Regions from separate parts of the Homo sapiens genome. Here all the other regions are reported to be linked to region 3. Evidence: microRNA targets listed by miRTarBase, many of them from high-throughput screens and not tested one by one. Region 3 holds a microRNA gene; each other region holds the end of a gene's coding sequence.

What was found. Region 3 holds the annotated microRNA hsa-miR-4432 (AAAGACUCUGCAAGAUGCCU, at 2,521-2,540, shown strand). A microRNA usually pairs through its seed, bases 2 to 8, with sites in the 3' UTR of a target mRNA and lowers its output. Matches are read on the target gene's strand: a 7mer-m8 pairs with bases 2 to 8, a 7mer-A1 pairs with bases 2 to 7 and ends in A, and an 8mer does both.
Region 1: the mRNA of CUL4A is a reported target of hsa-miR-4432. Seed matches in the 3' UTR shown: 7mer-m8 at 3,302-3,308.
Region 2: the mRNA of VAV3 is a reported target of hsa-miR-4432. Seed matches in the 3' UTR shown: 7mer-A1 at 570-576 and 7mer-A1 at 2,147-2,153.

What each region holds. Positions count from the first base shown.
Region 1 is chr13:113,262,111-113,269,310 of GRCh38, forward strand. CUL4A (cullin 4A) reads left to right here. Exons shown (of 20, transcript NM_001008895.4): 20 at 1,377-4,998. The coding sequence ends at 1,472. MIR8075 (microRNA 8075) reads left to right here and starts at 810; the gene lies at 810-889.
Region 2 is chr1:107,566,566-107,573,758 of GRCh38, reverse strand. It overlaps VAV3 (vav guanine nucleotide exchange factor 3), which reads left to right. Exons shown (of 27, transcript NM_006113.5): 27 at 387-2,598. The coding sequence ends at 428. Among named protein-coding and RNA genes, the nearest start is that of MIR7852, 330 kb to the left of the region's middle.
Region 3 is chr2:60,382,702-60,389,901 of GRCh38, reverse strand. MIR4432 (microRNA 4432) reads left to right here and starts at 2,457; the gene lies at 2,457-2,540. All of the region lies in intron 1 of MIR4432HG (MIR4432 host gene), which reads left to right. It also overlaps the pseudogene RNU1-32P.

The DNA.
Region 1 (7,200 bases), not on the chromosome of region 3:
CTGAATAGAAGGTGAAGTTTGTTTGGAAAATAGAGGGTCTCCCTTGTATAGGGAGAGCCTTGCACGTAAGTGCTCACACAGATTTTCTTCCTAATACAGCAGAGCTGGAGTGGCTGTTCCCTCTGGGCAGAGACAGGCTGTGGCTGTGGATTCGTCTCCTCAGTCACCTACTCTTAGTGCAGGAACACTGGGGATTGTAGTTTCACTTACGTGGACATGGCATGCAATAACTATGTAAATACACGAGAATAAAACTACAGGCCAGGCGCACTGCCTCACGCCAGCGATCCCAGCACTTTGGGAGCTGAGGCAGGCGGATTGATTGAGCCCAGGAATTTGAGACCAGCCTGGGCAACATAGTGAGACCCCTTCTCTACAAAAAATAAAATTAGCCAGGCATGGTGGTGTGCAGCCTGTGATCCCAGCTACTGGGGAGGCTGAAGCACGAAGATTGCTTGAGTCCAGGAGGTGGAGGCTGCAGTGAGCTGAGATCGCACCACTGCACTCCAGCCTGGGCGACAAAATGAGACCCCATCTCAAAATAAATAAACAAAATAAAATACACTACTTAGGCAGAAGCATCCTTTCAAAGGATAAAAGTTGCCCCAGTAAGACATGTTGAGATTTTCCTTTCAAATAAAAATGTGTCACGTGATCGGGTCTGCCTCACTTATACGTGCCCTTGCTGATGGCAGATGTCGGATCTGCCTCGCTTATACGTGCCCTTGCTGATGGCAGATGTCGGATCTGCCTCGCTTATACGTGCCCTTGCTGATGGCAGATGTCGGATCTGCCTCGCTTATACGTGCCCTTGCTGATGGCAGATGTCGGATCTGCCTCGCTTATACGTGCCCTTGCTGATGGCAGATGTCGGGTCTGCCTCGCTTATACGTGCCCTTGCTGATGGCAGATGTCGGGTCTGCCTCGCTTATACGTGCCCTTGCTGATGGCAGATGTCGGGTCTGCCTCGCTTATACGTGCCCTTGCTGATGGCAGATGTCGGGTCTGCCTCACTTATACGTGCCCTTGCTGATGGCAGATGTCGGATCTGCCTCGCTTATACGTGCCCTTACTGATGGCAGATGATGTATGTACATTTCACAAGTTTCACGTTTCCCTCAGGAAACCACACTCTGACCATAAACTCACATGGACGCTTTTTTTATCAAGAGATAACGTTAACTTTGTCTTTAAAATAGAAAGTTTTGTTCATTTCATAAATATGTGTATAATTATAAATGATTTTCATATAAATATCTATTTGTATATATATTTCTATAAGTATAGTTACATACTTCATGCATATACCCCTTGTATGTAAATGTTTGTAAATTTAATGCCATTGTAATTAGGGGGGTTTTATTCTTCTTTTTTAGCCTGGAGATTTGAAAAAGAGAATTGAATCTCTGATAGACAGAGACTATATGGAGAGAGACAAAGACAATCCGAATCAGTACCACTACGTGGCCTGACGCATCTGCAGACGGTTCCCCTTCATGAAACACTAGAATGTACCCTCAGAGCAGGAAGCACACCTGTGCCATTTCTGGGACTCTGATTGATCCAGCTGTGGACATTGGAAGGCGAAGGAAGGGAGGTGGCTCCTGGGTCATCTTTCACAAGGCTCAAGACTTCAACCTGCAGATGTATCTTTTTCCCTCCAGTTTTTCCTCTAGTTCTTTTAGGCATTTAAATTGTTTCTGTTACTCTGTGCAAAATAACTTTGAGATTGGACAAGAAGATGTTACTAAAGAGAAGTTCCTTTAAAAGGTCTTGTTCTTGTGTCAAAAAGCTGCAAGTTTGGTTTGTTCTCGTGTGTGATCATGAGTGCACAATGAAGAAGACCCTAGATGCTGCATTTTTTAGCTCTGAAGATTCCTTAGGTATCCCTGAAGACAGCTCGCTCAGATGATCAGCATTTAGAGTGAAAACAAGGGCCCTTCATGGGTGAACATTAGAAAGAGCCAGGGTTCAAAGCTGGCGAATGGATGACGCACCCTAGCCACTGGCCCCTCTCTGTTTCATGTATTTCCAAAAGTTGTAAACTTTGATGGCTGATTTTTCGTAAGTCAGGTTTCTAAGTGAGCTCCCTGAGGTGCCAAGGCCATGGTGTCCGCCCTGCTGCGTCTGTTCGTCAGCTGAGTTCCTTGTGAATCTCTGTTTTAGGGTTTGGGGCTAGTGTGTTTGTGTTTCCATTCTAAGATTGAGTCTGGCAGTCCCTGTTTTTTTGCATTGGGGTAACTGCTCTTTGATTTTTTTTAATTGCAGTATTTGTGTGATTGCAATAATAAAGTTTGGTTTGGTTTTTACAGTCATGCGCAGGGACGATCCTTGTTCTCTGCTGTAAACTGTAAAAAGTTTATGGAGACTTAAAGTCTTGATGTTGTGAAGCAGAGGTTATTTTGTGGAAAGATTAAAAGGATTTTGTTGGTACCTGGTTTTGTGTTGTGTATATATACATGAGGTTGAACAGTGAAAGGAAAGTTCAGTAGTGATGTTAGAAGGGTAACTATGACAAAGATACTTTTGAGATAACATTTAAAAGTACTTTATATTTTACATAATAGCATGTTTCATTTTGATTAAAAGCTACCAAAGGAATTTTGATCATGGCATAAGTGTTTAAAGCAATATTTTCTGGAATATACCAAGTTTATATAATTTGATTTTGTGCTAAATTATTAAGAGTCTCTTTTTGAAACATGCGGGTTTGAAATATGACACCTTGTGGGTTTCCATATTAAAATCCTCACTCTTTAATTGTCATTTCTATCTTTGAAAATTTTCATTTATGAGTTCCATGATATGTGGTCTAAGAAAGACCAAACAGATTTCTATTTTTTTTTTCTTATAAGTTCGTTGTGTCTAGAGATTGTTAATATTGTAATTTAATGTAGACTTACTTTGAATAAAATTAGTTTAATTGGCCTTAAAATTACATTAATAAAACTTTGTGATATGCAAATGACACATTCTTCATAACTCTTTAGCAGCTTTGACTACTAGTGCACTAGACAGAAGTCAGAGCAGGGAGCACCTGTCCCCTCTCAAGTGATTATTCTTTCCTGGCCACCTCTACCACAAAATACCAGTGGGGCCAGGTAGTGACAAGTGGGTCTTTTTTACTTGGACGATTCGTTGTGCTGTGCCTTTGTTTCATTTGAGCACAGTGGCTCACGCCTGTAGTCCCAGCTATGGGAGGGCAAGGTGGGAGGATCGTTTGAGCCTGAGTTCCAGACCATCCTGAGCACCATAGGGAGATCCTGTTTCCATTTTAGTTTATTTATTTTTAATTGAGGTGGAGTCTTGCTCTGTTGCCCAAGCTGGAGTGCAGTGGTGCAATCTCAGCTCACTGCACCCTCCGCCTCCTGGGTTCAAGCAGTTCTCCCACCTCAGTCTCCCAAGTAGCTGGGATTACAGGCACCCGCCATCATGCCCAGCTAATATTTGTATTTTTGTAGAGACGGGGTTTCACTATGTTGGCCAGACTGGTCTTGAACTCCTAACCTCAGGTGATCTGCCCGCCTTGGCCTCCCAAAGTGCTGGGATTACAGGCGTGAGCCACCATGCCCGGCCTGCCTGTTTCTGTTTTATAAAAGAAAGGAAAATCTATTTATATCTATTCTCTTATTTAGCAATATTTAATGTTTTATTGTTAAAGGTCAGTGTGGTAAAACAAATAGTATAGAAGAAATCATTGAAAAAGAAACAGCACTTAGACAGAAATGCTGTAAAAGTGGAAAGGAGAAGGTGAAATTACTTGCAGGTTAGATGGTTGCATACCCAGGTCATCTAAGGAGCAAATGAAAATCTGTGACTGAAGAAAGAATTCACCAAGTTAACCAGACACAAAATTAACAAAAACATCAGTAGCTTTCCTATAAATATAGGCTATAATGGAGGGTCATTTTTTATTTTTATTTAGAGACAGGGTCTTAACTGTCACCTGGACTGGAGTGCAGTGGCATGATCATGTTTCACGGCAGCCTCTACCTTCTGGGCTCAAGCGATCCTCTCTTCTCAGCCACCTGAGTAGCTGGGCCTACAGGTGTACATCACCACGCCCAGATAATTTTTATTGTATTTTTTATAGAGGCAGTGTCTTGCTATGTTGCCAAGGCTGTTCTTGTACTCCTGGCCTCAAGCGAACCTCCTACCTCAGCCTCCCCAAATGCTGGGATTACAGGCATGAGACACTGCACCTGACCAGAAGTCATTTTTTCAATAGCAACCCCCAAAAAAGATAAAATACCTAGTAACAAATAGGGAAACACCTATGTGAAAGGTATTATAACATTACTAAGGAACACAGGCCCTGAATAAGTGAAAGTTCTGTTGATTCTCACATTTTGCTATACAGTATCTTAAGATGTAAAACCTTCCTTTAAAACACAAGCGGATTCTAAAGTTAAAACAGAAAAGCAAATATGCCAGACTAGTCAAATTGTTTTAAATTCTGCTGTTTTTAGAACATTGTAATTGAAACAGCATGATGCTGGCCCTTTAAAAAGATTCCTGGAACAAGAAAGTCCACAAATAAGCCAAATACACAGGAACTCGGCGTGGCACAAAGGGGCCGTGTGTGATCAGGAACTGGAACTTTGCAACAACTACCCATGCTCAGAAGTTTGGGCCACCTTGAAAAGAGAAAAGTTGGATTAGACTCCTTTTTATACTAAGGGAAGTTCCAAGTGGTCAAGTATTTACGTGTAAAAAAATACATATATATGAAACCATAATCATAAGATACTTTTTTTGTAAATTGACTATTATTGTATAAATTTATAGAGTATAAAGTGATCTTATAAATTATGCATACATTGTGGACTAGTCAAGCTAGTTACATCCATCACCTCAAATACTTAACATTTTTGTAGTGAGAACATCTGAAATTTACTCTTAGCAATTTTGAAATGTACAATACTCAATTTTTGACTGTATTCACCATGCTGTACAATAGAACTCAGAAAAAGAAAAATATAGTCCTCCTTTCTAAGATTTTTGGACCCGTTGCCCCTTTATTTGTGTTTTTCCACTAAGTGATCTAGTGAATTCACATCGATTTTTTTAAAAAAGGATTGACATTAAATGACATCTTTTAAAGTCAACATGGGGGAAAACAAGGTTAAAAAAACTGGAACCCTTGCCGGGCACCATGGCTCATCCCTGTAATCCCAGCACTTTGGGAGTCTGAGGCGGGCGGATCACGAGGTCAGGAGATCGAGACCATCCTGGCTAACACAGTGAAACCCCGTCTGTACTGAAAATACAAAAAAAAAAGCCCAACGTGGCGGCAGGCGTCTGTAGTCCCAGTTGCTGGGGAGGCTGAGGCAGGAGAATGGCGTGAACCCGGGAGGCGGAGCTTACAGTGAGCTGAGATCACGCCACTGCTCTCCAGCCTGGATGACAGAGCAAAACTCCATCTCAAAAAAAAAAAAAAACTGGAACCATCTTGGATAAAATGTACGACAAAGTACTGATGAGTTTAATGTTAACAGAACTAGAAGTCAGCAAGAAGACCAGCAACAAGCCTTCGGATAAGTGAGTTCTTCATTAGCTTTAAGAGAGTGGGAGCAGAGGAAACGGGTACCGTGAGGGCAGACCTGCTTTCAAGAACAGATGAACAGCGGCTGAGAATGACTCCAAGAGGTCGCAGGAGCAGAGCTGCATTTCAGTGGCAGGTGACTGGGCATTGTCCTGCAGCAAGGCCCTAATATCCCAGGAGAGGGCAGGATCGAGGGCACAGGGAGTGGGGGCAGGTGAGGGCTGGCCATAGGTGTGGTGCCGGGGGAGACATTGGTTGTGACGGTGACCATGGCCCTAGGCTGGAGGGTGGGGGGGTCATGTAACATGAAGATTTAGGAGGTAAGCTTGGAGGGCGCAGCTGTTGGCAATGATGGTCTGGGTGAGGACAGACGGGGAACTGGGGCCAGAGCATGGGAGACAAGACCTGATGGTCGTCCAGCAGTCAGGGACGGTGACAGGAGCCAGTGATGGAGGCCCTGAGTGCAGGACAGCCCTGAGGCCTGGAGGTGGGCCAGCCAGTGAGAAGGGCGCACCCCCGCCGGGGTGTCCAGCAGCATGGAAGGAGCATGGCCTGGAAGCAGCAATGGGCAGAAGGGAGGGCCTCGCCCCAGATGCAGCCCCAGGGGGAGGGTCACGAAGTGAGCAGCGGGCCTCTGCCCCCTCCACGGAGGCATGGGCACCCTGTGGTGGGTTTGGAAGGAGAAACCAGGCAGTGGCCAGGCCCAGGCCTTGTGCAGCAGCCCGGGAAGTTCAGGGGAAGAGGAGTGCAGGTGTTAGGACCGCCTAGTAAGAACGTTTAGGAGATGGAGGTTTTGTCAACAGACTGAATTCAGAAAGGGCTGGAGGGGGCAGAGGTGACAGTTGGGCCATGTGAGAGTGAGAGGCCCAGCAGTGATGGGGGACAGGCTGGTGGGCTCTGGTGAGGGAGGTCAGCTCGAGGGATCTGAGACATTGTGAAATGATGGTCTCTCAGGTAAATTTGTGAGGGTATATTAAATTCGAAAATGCCCACACCTTTGACCCAGTAAGTTCCTTTCACTCACGTAGAATGATTTCTAGTACTGTTCTCGCACACACAGAAAATACCTTAAATGTCCTTCAATAAGGAAACAGACCATGTGCTAAGTCCATGCATGTGTGATATTCTGACCATGCAGCTTGAACCAAGATCTAGATGTCCATTTGGAGTGAGTGTCAAGAAATACCACGTAAGAAAAGAGAGCAGTGCCGTCCTGCCACCACTGTGTGTGCGGCCCGTGTACGTGTGAATAACGACGGCTCAACTCCAGAATGGAGTTCTGGAAGGCTGCGAGCAGGTATGCGAGAATCTTTTCTATGCATATACCATTTTGTATTTTTTTAATTTTGTGTCAAAAGAATGTTTAAAAGTAATGACAAATTATTAAGAAAACAAAATGGCCCCACCCACTGTGTTGTTTCTTTACCATAAAACACAAGGAATCAGCCAACCCAAAGTAATTGCACTTCCCCGCCCGCTCTCCTCCCAACCTAATCCACTGTTGTCATCAGTTATTTTATGGGTTACCTTTGTAATTGTAATGGACATATTGAAACCCTATTCTCTCGATCCATGAATATACTCAGTTTCTCATGAAAACCTCCTGTATTGGCAGGCCAGGCACAGTGGCTCACACCTGTAATCCCAGCACTTTG
Region 2 (7,193 bases), not on the chromosome of region 3:
ATAGAGCTAAACTTTATGTGTATTGCAAAATATCTATAAGAACTGCTGATGTAAATTGGAAAGAATGGGACATAGTACCTCTGTCTTTTCATCCTGTTCTACAGCAGAAATAGGAATCATTATGCAGCAGAGCCCCCCTGTATTATACTTAATTTACATATTTATTTGTGTGCTAGTGGATTAGAACACTGTTTATTTTATTCCTCCATTTCGATCATTTACTCTATTAGGCTTCTAAGAGCAGTTAAACCAATCTTCTCACCTACAATGGACATAAAACCCCAGTTTAATTGGGGTGTTATGAAAACAAAATACTCTGTTTGTAGAATCCTTTGAAGTGTCAGATACAAAGTCATGTTGCTGTGTTGGTTGCTTTTCTTTTTTAGGTGGGCTGGTTTCCATCCACATATGTGGAAGAGGATGAATAAATTCAAATCCCGTGTTGCACCCTGCACCAAAAATTTCAGAGAAGGGATAAATAGAAGCCTGCACAGCATCGTGAATTAACTGAAGTGTTTAAAAAGCTGCATTTCTGGCTGTTCAACATCCTCCCTCCTTAGCCCCTCCTAAGTCTTAATGCTGAGATTTCTAAAGATGCTGGTACTGACAGATTAATGGCTTGCCTAGAGCTGTGCAAGAAACAGCCTGCCAGTCTGTCATTGTCAGGGACCAGGGCAAAACCAAGAGCTGTTCTTCCCAGAAGAGCCCTGCAAACACATTGGTTCGTGCTTCCCTTTACTTCTTCTGGTCAGATACCATGAATGCCAGTCATCAGTAAATCTTAATACACTTTTGCTTTATTCTCACATGCCATTCACCAGATTATTTGATGGTACAAAGAAGCAGAAGTGTAATTTTCCTTTTCCCAGCATGACGAAAAATTGGAGTTCTGCCATTTGAGCAGCTTACTGGAAAGATCCAGCCTTACTTGTCTTAAATTGTCCAACAAGGTGACTCATTGCCCGGCAAACACTTTTACCCTCAGATGTTACTCATGATATTATAAAATATGAGGCCAGTGCTCAGGTTTGCATCATAAGTGAGCTATCCCTGAAGGGTTTTAATTACTTATTTGGTGTCCTGATTATATTTGCAAACTTCTTTATAAAAGGTGAAAAAAGCACACAAAAGAGAGGGTGTCTTCATATTAAACCTTCACAACCTTCATGATTTCATAGGATTATTTTGGAAATATAGCACTTGACTTTATGAAAGGATCTGGGCTAGGTATATTAAGGGTAGTTGCCAATAACCTGAAGAAGCTGGCATTGTTTACAGAAACAGATCAAGGGCTATAATTTATGTCATTTTATAGCAGCAGTATCTATTAATACATGCCTTTTCCTCCCATCCACCTCCCCCGCACACACACAAAGATGACCTGGGACATGATTTTTTTATTCCCACATTTTCTTGGAGCACAAACAACTTTGTTGAGGATTTTGGAAGGAAAGCACAACTGGGTCCTTTATTCATTTCTGGGACAGAAAGAGGGTCAGTGGACTTTTGTGGGCCTCCAGCTTCTCTCAGAGTCTCCCCCTCTGCAGCCCATCCTGGGAGTGTATTAACTGGAGGGAAGATGGGTCTTGCAGTACATTTGTTTTGCCCAGCCATCACTCTTTTTTGTGAGGAGCCTAAATACATTCTTCCTGGGGTCCAGAGTCCCCATTCAAGGCAGTCAAGTTAAGACACTAACTTGGCCCTTTCCTGATGGAAATATTTCCTCCATAGCAGAAGTTGTGTTCTGACAAGACTGAGAGAGTTACATGTTGGGAAAAAAAAGAAGCATTAACTTAGTAGAACTGAACCAGGAGCATTAAGTTCTGAAATTTTGAATCATCTCTGAAATGAAGCAGGTGTAGCCTGCCCTCTCATCAATCCGTCTGGGTGCCAGAACTCAAGGTTCAGTGGACACATCCCCCTGTTAGAGACCCTCATGGGCTAGGACTTTTCATCTAGGATAGATTCAAGACCTTTACCTCAGAATTATGTAAACTGTGATTGTGTTTTAGAAAAATTATTATTTGCTAAAACCATTTAAGTCTTTGTATATGTGTAAATGATCACAAAAATGTATTTTATAAAATGTTCTGTACAATAAAGTTACACCTCAAAGTGTACTCTTGGAATGGATTCTTTCCTGTAAAGTCTTATCTGCGACTCTGTCTCGGGAATGTTTTGTCTGTTGCCGTCAGCCGAACTTTGTTATGGAGGGAGCAGCCTCACACAAGCAGAAACACTCCTGTGGATGGTATTGTAGCATGTATTGTTTATTTTAGTCAATAGACCCTCTCCTTATAAATGGTGTTTAGTCTTCCTGTTGCATTTCATGGGCCTGGGGGTTTCCTAGCAGAGGATATTGGAGCCCCTTTTTGTGACATTACCAATTACATCTTTGTCCACGTTTAATACTTTGTTTTGGAAAATTTAAATGCTGCAGATTTGTGTAGAGTTCTAATACCAAAGACAGAAGTAAATGTTTTCCATATACTTTGTCTTGCCTGTATGCAGCCCTCGTGTAATACGGTGAATTAGAGTGGTATTTCACTTTGTATTATTTTGTAAATATGTCAATATAATAAATAGTGACTAAATTGATTTCTAAGAGTTGGAGTCTTTTTATTGAATGATCCCTGTATTAGTCAGGGTTCCCCTGAAAATGGATGGCACTGGATTGTTGGGCCTGTACCAGGCCATCGCCAGCAGTCCAGAGTGAACAGAAGCAGTGTATGTGTGGAGGTCACCACCCCCCCGCCCGCCAGCCCCGTGGACGCTATGCGTCTAGTAGGAGGGCCGCTGCGGTGAGTCTTGAAGCCCAGGGCTGGGCCCGGGCAGAGCCGCCGCAGGTGCAGATGTTGGTGGTAGTAGCACATATTCTAAAGAGAACTTCAAAGGCCGAAGTGGAGAAGGGTTCCATGTGAACAGCAGTTGGACATGGGTCATTCGGTCCTGAGAAATAGGTGAGCGCCATTCTGAATGGACAGGCGATGGCCTCTGTTGCCCTCAGCCAATCGAAAGGGAGTCCGGTTCAGATCCCGAATCCGGAGTGGCGGAGATGGACACTGCCAAGCGTCCAGCACAGTAATGCGAAGGATCCCAGAGAAGCCAATGGAAGCCCCGGGGAGAGTTCTTTTCTCCTTGTGAAGGGCAGGGCGCCCTGGAATTGGGTTCGCCTGGAGAGAGGGGTCCGCGCCTTGGAAAGCGTCGCGCTTCCAGCGGCATCTGGTGAGCTCTGGAGGGCCCTTGAAAGTGCGGGGGAGAGGGTGTAAATCTCGCGCCCGGCTGTACCCATATCCACAGCATTCCTCCCTCTGGAACTAAGACCTCTAGGCCAGCACAACAGAATGTCGCGGGAACAGGAAGCAAAAATTTTGCTAGTGGATCACTTAGGGTGATGGTGAGTGGTGCCACTTCCACTTCCACCCCCTGATTCCTGGACCCTTGAATCCTGGCCATGGGAGAAACAGTACCATACATTGGACACTGATTCAGAGCATACACGGCCTTCTAAAGAATTTTGTCCCATCCCTGCAAAGTATTGTCACCTAGTTGGCATTGTAATTGTGACTTCAAAAGGCCATTCCACCTTTCTATCAATTCAGCTGCTTCAGGATGATGGTGAATTCCATGAGCATGAGCCCACTGCTACACTTCTTTAGCCATAAAGTGAGTGCCTTGGACAGAGGCAATGCTGTGTGGAATAGCATGATTGTGGATAAGGCATTCTGTGAGTCCACGGATGGTAGTCTTGGCAGAAGCATTGCATACAAAATAGGCAAACCCATATCTGGAGTAATTGTCTATTCCAGTGAGGACAAACTTCTGCCTTTTCCATGATGGAAGAGGTCCAATATAATCAACCTGCCACCAGGTAGCTAGCTGCCTGATCACCCCAAGGAATGGTGCCATATCGAGGGCTCAGTGTTGGTCTCTGCTGCTGGCAAATTGGGCACTCAACACTGGCTGTAGCCAGGTCAGCCTTGGTGAGTGGAAGTCCATGTTGCTGAGCCCATGTGTAACCTCCAACCCTGCCACCATGGCCACTTTGTTGATGGGCCCATTGAGCGATGACAGGAGTGACTGGAGAAGGAGGCTGAGTGGTGTCCACAGAATGGGTCATACTAGCCAGTTGATTATTAAAATCCTCCTCTGCTGAGGTCACCCATTGGTGAGCACTCACATGGGATACAAATATCTTCACAGTTTTTGGCCACTCAGGCCCATCCACATACCTCTTCCCCAGATTTCTTTGTCACCAATTTTCCAATCATGCTTCTTCCAGGTCCCTGACCACCCAGCCAAACCATTGGCTACAGCCCACGTATCAGTATATAATCACACAACCAGGTGCACTGATTGAAGTTCTGCCCACTGGAAATATTTCCCTTCAGCACTGTCCTTCAGGGATGTCTTGGAAAGGGGCTGTAGTGCTGCAGCTGTCCACTTTGGGTGATGCCTGCATATCATGAAGAACCATCTGTGAACCAGGCCCTAGTCTTCTCTCCTCTGTCAATTCATCATAGAGAACTCCTTATGCGGCCATTGGTGCAGGCTAGGGAAGAGAAAGCAGGGTGGCAGGAGTAGAGACCATGGGCGTTTGAGCCACTTCCTCATGTAACTTACTTGGCCTTCAAGACCTGCTCGAGCCCGATCACGTATATACCACTTTCATTTGATGATGGAATGCTGCTGTGCATGACCCACTTTATGGCTAGATGGGTCAGAAAGCACCCAGTTCATGATAGGCAATTCAGGTGGCATGGTGACTTGATGACCCATAGTCAAATGTTCAGTTTCCACCAAAGCCCAGTAGCAATCCAAGAGCTGTCTCTCAAAAGGAGAGTAGTTATCTGCAGAAGATGGCAGGGTCTTGCTCCAAAATCCTGGAGGCCTCCACTGTGATTCACCTATGGGGGTCTGCCGAAGGCTCCAAACAGCATCCCTATCTGCCACTGACACCTCAAGCACGATTGGATCTGCTGGGTCATATGGCCCAAGTGGCAGAGCAGCTCGTACAGCAGCCTGGACCTGTTGCAGAGCCTTCTGTTCTGGACCCCACTCAAAACTGGCAGCCTTTCAGGTCACTTGATAATTGGGCAGGACTAATATACCCAAATGAGGAATGTGTTGCCTCCAAAAGCCAAATAGGCCCACTAGGCATTGTGCCTCTTTCTTGGTTGTAGGAGGGGCCAAATGCAGCAACTTACCCTTTACCTTAGAAGGACTATCTTGACAGGCCCCACAGTCCCATAACACACATACACCAGCCCCATAATTAACATGGGGATTAAGCCCTAATTTTGTTTAAGTTTAGCTCAGGATTGCTGCCTAAGTTATGAACAGTGAACTACAAGGTAAACTCAATAGTTGCCAATAACATGTATTGGCATGCTTACCATGTGCCATGCTCTGTTCTAAGTGCTTTATTTGCACCAACTTACAACAACCCCCAAAGGTAGAACCCCATAATATTTTCATTTGCACATGAGGAAACTGAGGTACATCAAGAGGTTGCAACTTTCCCAAAGTCACACAGCTGCTAAGTGTCAGAGCTGAATTCTGACTTGGGTGGTCTGGCTCCAGAGTCCGTATAACCACTACCCTATCCTGCCACACTTTGTAGGGCAAGAGAGAGATTTCGTACATTTTTAAACTTACATAACCGAGAAGAAACTATACGATACTAAACAGTGGTTTGAACAATGAAAGGTTAACACAGAATTCAGAAATATGCCACTATTCCTGCCACCTAAAAGAAAACCCAAAAAAGATATTGCCTAGAGAGATTAGTATCAGATTGAATTTTCGTTTCTACTTTGATTCACTCTTGCACTAGAAAATGGCTGCTAATCCAGAGAGGCTTGGAGTCAAGTTTCCCTTGGTGGAGCAGGCCAGCTGATAATCCACAGTGATGGAGTCTGTCTTAGGGAGAGGGTGGAATCACTTCATTCCTTCTAAGGACCAGGAAAGGCCATGGTGGTAGCTTCTGCTTGACTTCACCATCACAACCTTGCTACAAACACAAAATTCCTCTTATTTTCATTACGATACAGTGGGTTATACAGCCCTGAATCCATTATTTGAGGAGCCAACTCCGTTGGTATCTTTATCACTTCTCTTTGACATATTAACATTACGTGACTGTTAGACCTTGTATCAGTTCATCACCGTCCTCACCACTGCCAATTGTACTCACCGTTGCTCCCTTTATTTGCTAGTTAACATGGGAACACAGCTTTGTAACAAGTATTTTGTCTTCCACCAAATGAGTGAAGTAAAATATGCTGGTAGTTAGTTTTTCGTTGTTTGTTTGTTTTGAGACAGAGTTTTTCTCTTGTCGCCCAAGCTGGAGTGCAATGGTGCGATCTGTGCTCACTGCAGCCTCCACCTCCCAGGTCCAGGCAATTCTCCTGCCTCTGCCTCCTGAGTAGCTGGGATTACAGGCACCCACCGTCACGCCCAGCTAATTTTTGTATTTTTTTAGTAGAGACGGGGTTTCACCATGTTTGCCAGGCTGGTCTCGAACTCCTGACCTCAGGTGATCCACCCACCTCGGCCTCCCAAAGTGCTGGGATTACAGGCGTGAGCCGCCATGCCCAGCCACTGGTAGTTAGTTTTGAGGCATCTTGCTTTGTTCTACTTAATCTGACAGCTGTACAGAAGAGTGAAAAGGTATGGCCCTATAAGTCAGACTGACTGTCTCAGTTTATATCTCATCCCTACCATGCAGAACCTCCACCAATCAGTACCACAACACCTACTTCATAGAACGGTTGTGTGACACAACTGAGATCATCCACATAAAGTGGAACAGTGGCTGGCATATACAAAGCCATATTTGTCATTATCATCCTTGTTGTGATTGTCAGATGGGTTTGCTGACAAGTTTGGATAGTTGGCATCTTAATATTTGAAATTCTTTAGCATAAATTAGGCTCATTTATTGGATTGAGGAGAAAAACTCTGCAGATTCGAAATTAACCTTTCTAGGATGGGAATTAAACTATTTGTTCATAGGAAGAAGGAGGGTTTTAGCATCAGTCAGACCGGGGTTCAAACCCCAACCCTGCCACTAACTTTTAGGAGCATCCACTACCTCTTCTGTAATAAAGGGATCATTAAAAGTGCCTGAGAGAGCTGTTGTGAAGAATAAATGATAACATATGAAAAAGGTCCCTAGTACAGAGCCTCAC
Region 3 (7,200 bases):
GAGCATGAAAAATACTAAATTTGGACTTTTTGGAGGTTTTCATTTATGAAGTAGAGTCTATATATTTGGCTCAAGTCTTGCCGGCTGCCCTATTTTCATAGTCCCAGGATCAATATGAGGTTAGTCCATTTGTCTTCTGGAAAAATGTTGTGGCTGGGCTATGTGGCTCACACCTGTAATCCCAGCACTTTGGGAGGCCAAGGTGGGTGGATCACTTGAGATTAGGAGTTCCAGACTGGCCTGGGCAATGTGGGGACACTCTGACTCTAAAAGAAATAGAAAAATTAGGCATAATGGCACATACATTGTGGTCCTAGCTGCTTGGGAGGCTGAGCTGGCAGGATTGCTTGAGGCTGGGAGGTTGAGGCTGTAGGGAGCTGTGATTGTGCCACTGTACTCCAGTCTGTGTGACAGAGTGAGGCCCTGTCTCCAAAAAAAAAAAAAAAAGAAAAAAGAAAAAAGAAAAATGTCGTGCAGTCTTGCAGAATCTTCATGTGATCTTGCTTTGAGGCTATTAGAAAGTTCTTTCATACCCTTCCTCTGTGCTTGGCTGGAAGCCTTTTCCCCTAATTTTGGCACCTCCACCTTGAGTCACCTTGCAGTAGGTGGGAAGTGTTTTCCTTTTACAGGTTGGCCACACAACTGCCTCATCTCCTGTCCTGCACGAGGGCCACCACAGCTCTCCCCTTTCCTTTCCTTTCGTTTCGTTTCCTTTCCTTTCCTTTCCTTTCCTTTCCTTTCCTTTCCTTTCCTTTCCTTTCCTTTCCTTTCCTTTCCTTTCCTTTCCTTTCCTTTCCTTTCCTTTCCTTTCCTTTCCTTTCCTTTCCTTTCCTTTCCTTTCCTTTCCTTTCCTTTCCTTTCCTTTCCTCTCTTCTCTCTTCTCTCCTCTCCTCTCTTCTCCTTTCCTCTTCTTTTCTTTTCTTTTTGAGATGGAGTCTCATTCTGTGGCCCAGGCTGGAGTGTAGTGGCACGATCTCAGCTCATTGCAACTTCTGACTCCCAGGTTCAAGTGATTCTCCTGCCTCAGCCTCCCTAGTAGCTGGATTACAGGCATGCGCCACCATGCCCGGCAAATTTTGGTATTTGTAGTAGAGACGGGGTTTCACCATGTTGGTCAGGCTGGTCTCGAACTCATGACCTCAAGTGATCCATCTGCCTCAGCTTCTCAAAGTGCTGGGATTACAGGCGTGAGTCACCGCGCCTGGCCCAGATTGTTCTATCTCCCTCTCCCCTATCACTTTCCATGAGGCAGGCAGCCCCAGGCTCATAGGCCAGCAGCTGAGATGAGAGGACATGGCCTTCTTCAATGACATCAGCAGACTGTACTAGGGAGGGTCTGACTAACTGGGTCTGGGTCACTGGCCCCTCCTTGCCAGCAGCCCTTCCTCAGGAGAAGAGCTGTCTACTGTGCAGCACAGGGCAATACCAGCCTCAGGTCCTCTCTGTCCAAGGATTTAGTTGGCTTCAGGGAAGGCCCTTGTAATGACCTGAAGATGGAAATGAAGAGGTCAACTTCACCAGCACCAGCCACCTGTCCAGAATGTCTCAGCTTGTGTTTCTTCCTTTAAGATTCAGAAGGGTAAAAGGGAGCCACCAAACCTCATTTGGAGGGTCTGTCATTCTTTGCTGTTACTAGCCACTTCTCTGGAACACTTGTGTCCCTGTATTAGTTAGATGCTTGCAGTTTAAGGGGACTATGGCGTAATCCCATTGCTTTAGGTGATGGAGGATTATTGGAAGGACACCCTGGGAGGTGGGGAAGAACAGTAAATCTTCTCAGCAGTCACAGCTGGGCTTCACCGAGAACTGGAGTATCGTCCATGGCCATATAGGATTTGACAGGAGTTTGTGTAATCTAGTAAATAAAACCCCATGTTCCATAATCAAACTGCTGGGTTCACATTGCAACTCTGCCCTTTACCACTGTGTCACCTCTCTAGCCTCAGTTTCCTACCATCTATACAGTGGTGACAATAATAGCACTGACCATGTGGGGTTCCTTGTCAAGTTTCGGTGAGATCCTGTGCACAAGGACCTAACAGTGCCAGGCAAAAAGTTATGCTCAATGAGTATTGTTGTCAACTGTGGCTCCATGGACACTGTTATTATGAATACTTGTTATTAACAGGGGCTTTGCCCCACAAATGTAAGTCCATTTTTGTCCACTCTCGTGTTGGGGAGTTGGAGTGCTGGCTACTCTTTTCTGTTCTGTCACATGTACCATTACTCTTTGACGACAGCTCCCCATGTCTCAGTCAGATGTCCCAATAGAAGATCTGATTGGCTCTGCCAGGTGTTATCTAGTTTTGGGCAGCCCTACTGGGCATGTGGGGCCCTAATGTTCACACTGGGCCACCTTTTTGGCCTGTTTGCAGCCTATGAATTACCCCCTTGTTTGGTGGATTATGGCCAGAACAGTCTATAACTGAGAATCCCCTCAGACTCTGGGCAGAAAGGCATCTTGCAGAGCCGTTCCAATGCGACACCTCTAGAGTGTCATCCCCTAGAATGTCACCTTGGAAAGACTCTGCAAGATGCCTTGTTAACCATCATGGACCCTGTTAACCATTGTGGGCTAGCATGGTTCTACAAAGACACCTGTGCTCTGCTAGTGAGGGCCCTAACCCATCTCACCCCCTATGGATCCCTCCCTGATTCTGCTGGGATTCCTGCTCACTTTTCCTCTCACATGTTCCCAGCCTCGAGCAAAAATGAGGTATCTGTATTGGAAGCTAGAAATGCTGAGTTTTGAAGCAAATTCTTTGGGTAGGGGGTCCCCTCATAGCAATGCCTCTGGAGTAAGGGGATAAAGACAGAAGGATGACTGACAGGTTTCCTAGGGAGCCCCAGTTCTCTTAACTGAGTGTCTTTCCCCAAGATGGCCTCTCCCTCACGGGGGTAAACGGGGTGCCTGGCGTGGCTGGAGAAGTCTGCTGGTTCTCCCACTGACTAGTGAAGGAGCAGAGAGGGCAGCTCTGCACAGGTTTCTGGACTGGCCTCTTGGAGACCCTTTCGGGGGCTGCCTCTGGAAGATTCACTCCTAGGCTCTCAGAAGATCTGAGGTAGGCTGTTAGCTGAAGCTCCAGAATCCCCTTTCTTTTATTTCTTCAGCAAAGTCCCAGCCTGTTGACCTTTGGGTCCCAGTGCTGAGCCCAGCTCTAGATTTATCTACCCCTCTGGGGCCAAATGCCTGACTTGTTAGCCATGCCGAATGGTTTTATTTGTTTCTGTTGTGCATTTTTATCATTTTTGTTCATGTGCCTGGAGGCTTTCCTTAGAAAATGATGGATGCGTTTTCATAAATCAAAACATAAATGAGAAAGTATATAAAGGCAAAAAATAGACCCAAGTCTGGAATTTGCCACTAGGAGCTGCTAGCTATTTCCCAGGGAGAATGCCCTTTTTGATTTTACAATGTCAGATCCTGACTTATTTCACAGAGTACAATTTTCAGAGCACTTCCTAATACTACTGGCCACAGTAATAATGATGACAATCCCAACCGTGCCTGGTATGGTGCTGAATGCTTTTGATACATTATCACACTTAATTCTTAAAACAGTCTGAGGAGCCAGGTTCTTTCACTATCCCCATTGTAAAGATGAGTAAAGAGAGGTCCAAATGATTTTGTTACTTAACCAAGTTCCCATCTTTGGTAAAAAGTGGGATTAAAATGCAGGTTTCTCATGTTCTCGACGGACAGATACCTTGGACTCCCTTTTCATTGCTTGCCGGAGGTGTGTAAGGGTGGTGGGTTGTAGCTTCTCCTGCCAGCTCTGCTGGAAAGCAGGTGGCTGGGAGTGGTAGGGGCAGCTTTTAGTTGGAGGGGCTCATAGAGAGAGTCTGTTCTCATCAGCTCTGTTCACAGAGTGCCCCTGAGCAGAACACCAGCTTTGCTGGGTGGCACATTAGCGCAGTGCCTAATGCCACGACGCCTTAGACAATGTCACTGTCACCACTAGCAGGAACCTGCCCCCTCCACTCTGCAACTTTCCTGTTTCATCACCCTTGAGCTATGAGGGTGTCCTCTAGCTATGAGCCAGAGGGTGTCCTCTAGGACCTAGCCACAGGGTAGGAGTCTGATACAAACCAGAAGACAACTGGTGAGAATTCCACGTATTTCCTTTATTAGTCACAAATCCACTGGTTGTACGTGGTAGAATTATCACTGGGACCAGCTTAAGAAGAAAGGAGGGCTGGGTGTTTATTGGTTCATGTGATCAGAGCATAAAATGCTTTTTTTTTTTTTTTTTTTTCCTGTTGGGGAAAATCCTAGTTTCCCTGTTCAGTCTCATGCCAATCCTTGGGCCAATCAGAGGGAGGGGGAAACTGTCCAGTTCAGTTCATGAGCCCTTTTCTCTGGCAGAAGGATGGGTAACTATGATTTTTTTTGTGCTAGAACTGCAAAATCAGAGTTAGGGGGCAAGATGCCCACGAAAGAGGAGGCTGCTCTTCTTGTAGACAGTTTGGTAAATGTCTAGGACATTTTCTATTGCTTTTCTTCTATACCTCCCTTCTTTGTCTGGGATATCATACACCTGGCCTGAGTCAAGGTGCTGACATAAGTCTCTGGTGAACTGCTGAACAGTTCCACTCCTTGTTCTTTCCAGGGTGCCCCATCCCATCTTAGGGCATCTAGGCTCAGATCCTGTCCTTTGCTCAGGCTTGGAGACCTCAAGTGATGTCACTAGGAACTATCCAGGATTGTAGAGGGGCTTTCAGCCCACAGAGTTTCTAACTGGCCACATTTGGAATTTTCCATTTAGCAGGACTTTCCCTCTGTGAACATCTGGTAGGATCCAAATCCTATCCCAATTCTGTGTTCTTTTTCAGACTTTCTGAACACTAAAAACATCTGTAGTTTTGCGAAAGGTTCTTTCACAATTTTATGATTGTAAATAGGCTAATTAGCCCAATCACTTGTTATTTTGTCATCTGCGTGGCACCACCTGGCCCTGGAGTATGTATCTCTCTGAGTACTAGGCAACGAGCAGAGCAGATGACCACCCTGACGAGACTTTGAATTAGGAATCTCATGACCCTGCCTTGGAACTCTGGCAGGGAAGTCCTCTCCTTCTTGATAGGAAAGGATGAAGGTTTGGGCACTTTCTAAAACAAATTTTTATTATTATTATTTTTAAAGCATGAATGCAGTTCCCCACTACCACAAATTATGCAGTCAGGTTTCCCACATTTGGGGAAATTGCAGGGGGTCAGCACATCCAGTGTGAAATGGATAAGCCTCATCCTCGGAAAACCACCTTTGCGGTCATGGTATCTCCCCTGCCAGTAAGTATATCTGAGAAAAATATTTTTAACAACAACTTAAAAAAGAAAACAAAACAAATTTCTGGTAACTACCATGTAACTCCATGGTAAATGATTCTCTCTCTGCTTCCTACCAGGTGACCCCAGTACCCAATGGTCTATCAGGTACTCGGTTCTGCCCAAGAAGCAATTCGGAGCTTTGCTAGGTTCCTTCTTGTAGTGTTCCAATCTGTCTTTCGCACTTGATCTTGTCTCTTCGGAGATGTCATAAACTCTCTAAGGACGGGAAGCCTATCTCCTATTTCTCTTTGTTAGGCATATGGTAGGCATTGATAAGTCTTCCTTGGCTAGGGAGCTATAATTGTAAGAGTGTGTGTGTGTGTGTGTGTGTGTGTGTGTGTGTGTGTGTTTTGGGGGGGGGACAGGGTTGGCAACTACAAGCAAATACTCTGAGATCCCTCTAGCCCTGATCTATTGGGAATACCTAAATCATATGTATGCAAGTTTTAATTCTTGGGTGAGGGGCTGTTTCCTAACTCTGCTGATTTCTAACTGCCCCTTTCCTGTAATTGCTGGGTCAATGCAAGTTCTCAGCTGCGCATTGGAAATGCCACTGCTTTCCATCACAGTGATGAATTTACATGGGAAAAACCTGAGGCCAAAGAGTTCTGGCTCTTACTCAGAGCCTTCCTACCAGTCACCTCCCAAAGTAAAAGAATAGTAACATACCTGACCTGTTCTTCTGGCTTCTCTAAAGCCAAATTCCAGCCTTGGTTAGGTTTCTGTTCATTTGGAAAATATCTGTATGAAATGTAGGTGCATGTCATGGAGGGGGCAGTGGGGAGTGAGTGAAGTGAGTCAGAAGGGAAGAGGAGAGCTCTCTCCCCCTGACCCTGCCGCCGCCTGCTTTCTTCCAGTGAGTCTAGATGGATTTTTGGGATCTGATGTGGCTGCATAAAGACGTGTCTCTGAAAAAGCAAAATGTCAGTGTTTTGAGGCCTTTCCGTTGGGGAGGGAGGGAACACGGTGGTCACTGGTTGTTCTCCTTAGGCCAGACAGGAGGAAAGGGAAGTATGTGTGAGTCTCTGATAATTCTCTTCTTTTTCTTTCCCTCACTTTTGTTCTTCAATAAATCACTCAGGACAATCTGCTTCTTCTTAGTGGTGTGTTTTCCTAGGGTTCAGCCTTTGTTTGAAATTCTAGAACAACAGAGTTGCAGTAAATATGGTCAACCTACGTGTAATTATGCTGGTATGTCAACTTTGCCCCGCAGAGTTGGGTCTGCTCTGGTTAAACAGAGGCCCCCCTGACTCAGAAACAAGACCTCCTGCAGGACCCTGTGGAGGGCCGACCCCAATCCCTGTGTCTGAAGGGGGTAAGACAGCCCATAATTACGCTCATTGTTTAGGTCGGAGCACAGGAGGGTTTACATTAAAGACCTCAGCTGGCACACACAGCATGCCTATGGAAAAAATGAACCGCTCTCCTCCGCCCGCTTCCCGGTCCCAGCGTTGCCTGTCCAAGGGCTTTGGGTTTCACAGACGCCTTCTGTGACTCCACGTTCTGACCACTCCTGATTAGAAGCTTGGCTTCCCCCAGTTCTAAGAGATGTCTCAATCCAGAGGTTTGGAAATTGAGCCTTTCAAGAATCACAGCGTGTAGGTCTTGGGAAGGACCTAGAGATGATGCTGTAAGTTGGTGTCTCTTAAACTTTCATGCTCACAGGAATCACTTGGAGTTCTTGTCAAAATGCAGATCTAAATGTGGTAGTCTTGAGGTGGGGCTGGAAAGTCTGCATTTCCAGAAAGCACCCTGGTAATGCCCTGTGCTGGTCATTGGACCCCACTTGGAGCATCAAGATTCTAAGCTAAGCCTTTCATTTCACAAAGAATAAAAGGGAAACCCGGAGACCTGGAAGAGCTTGTTGGGGCA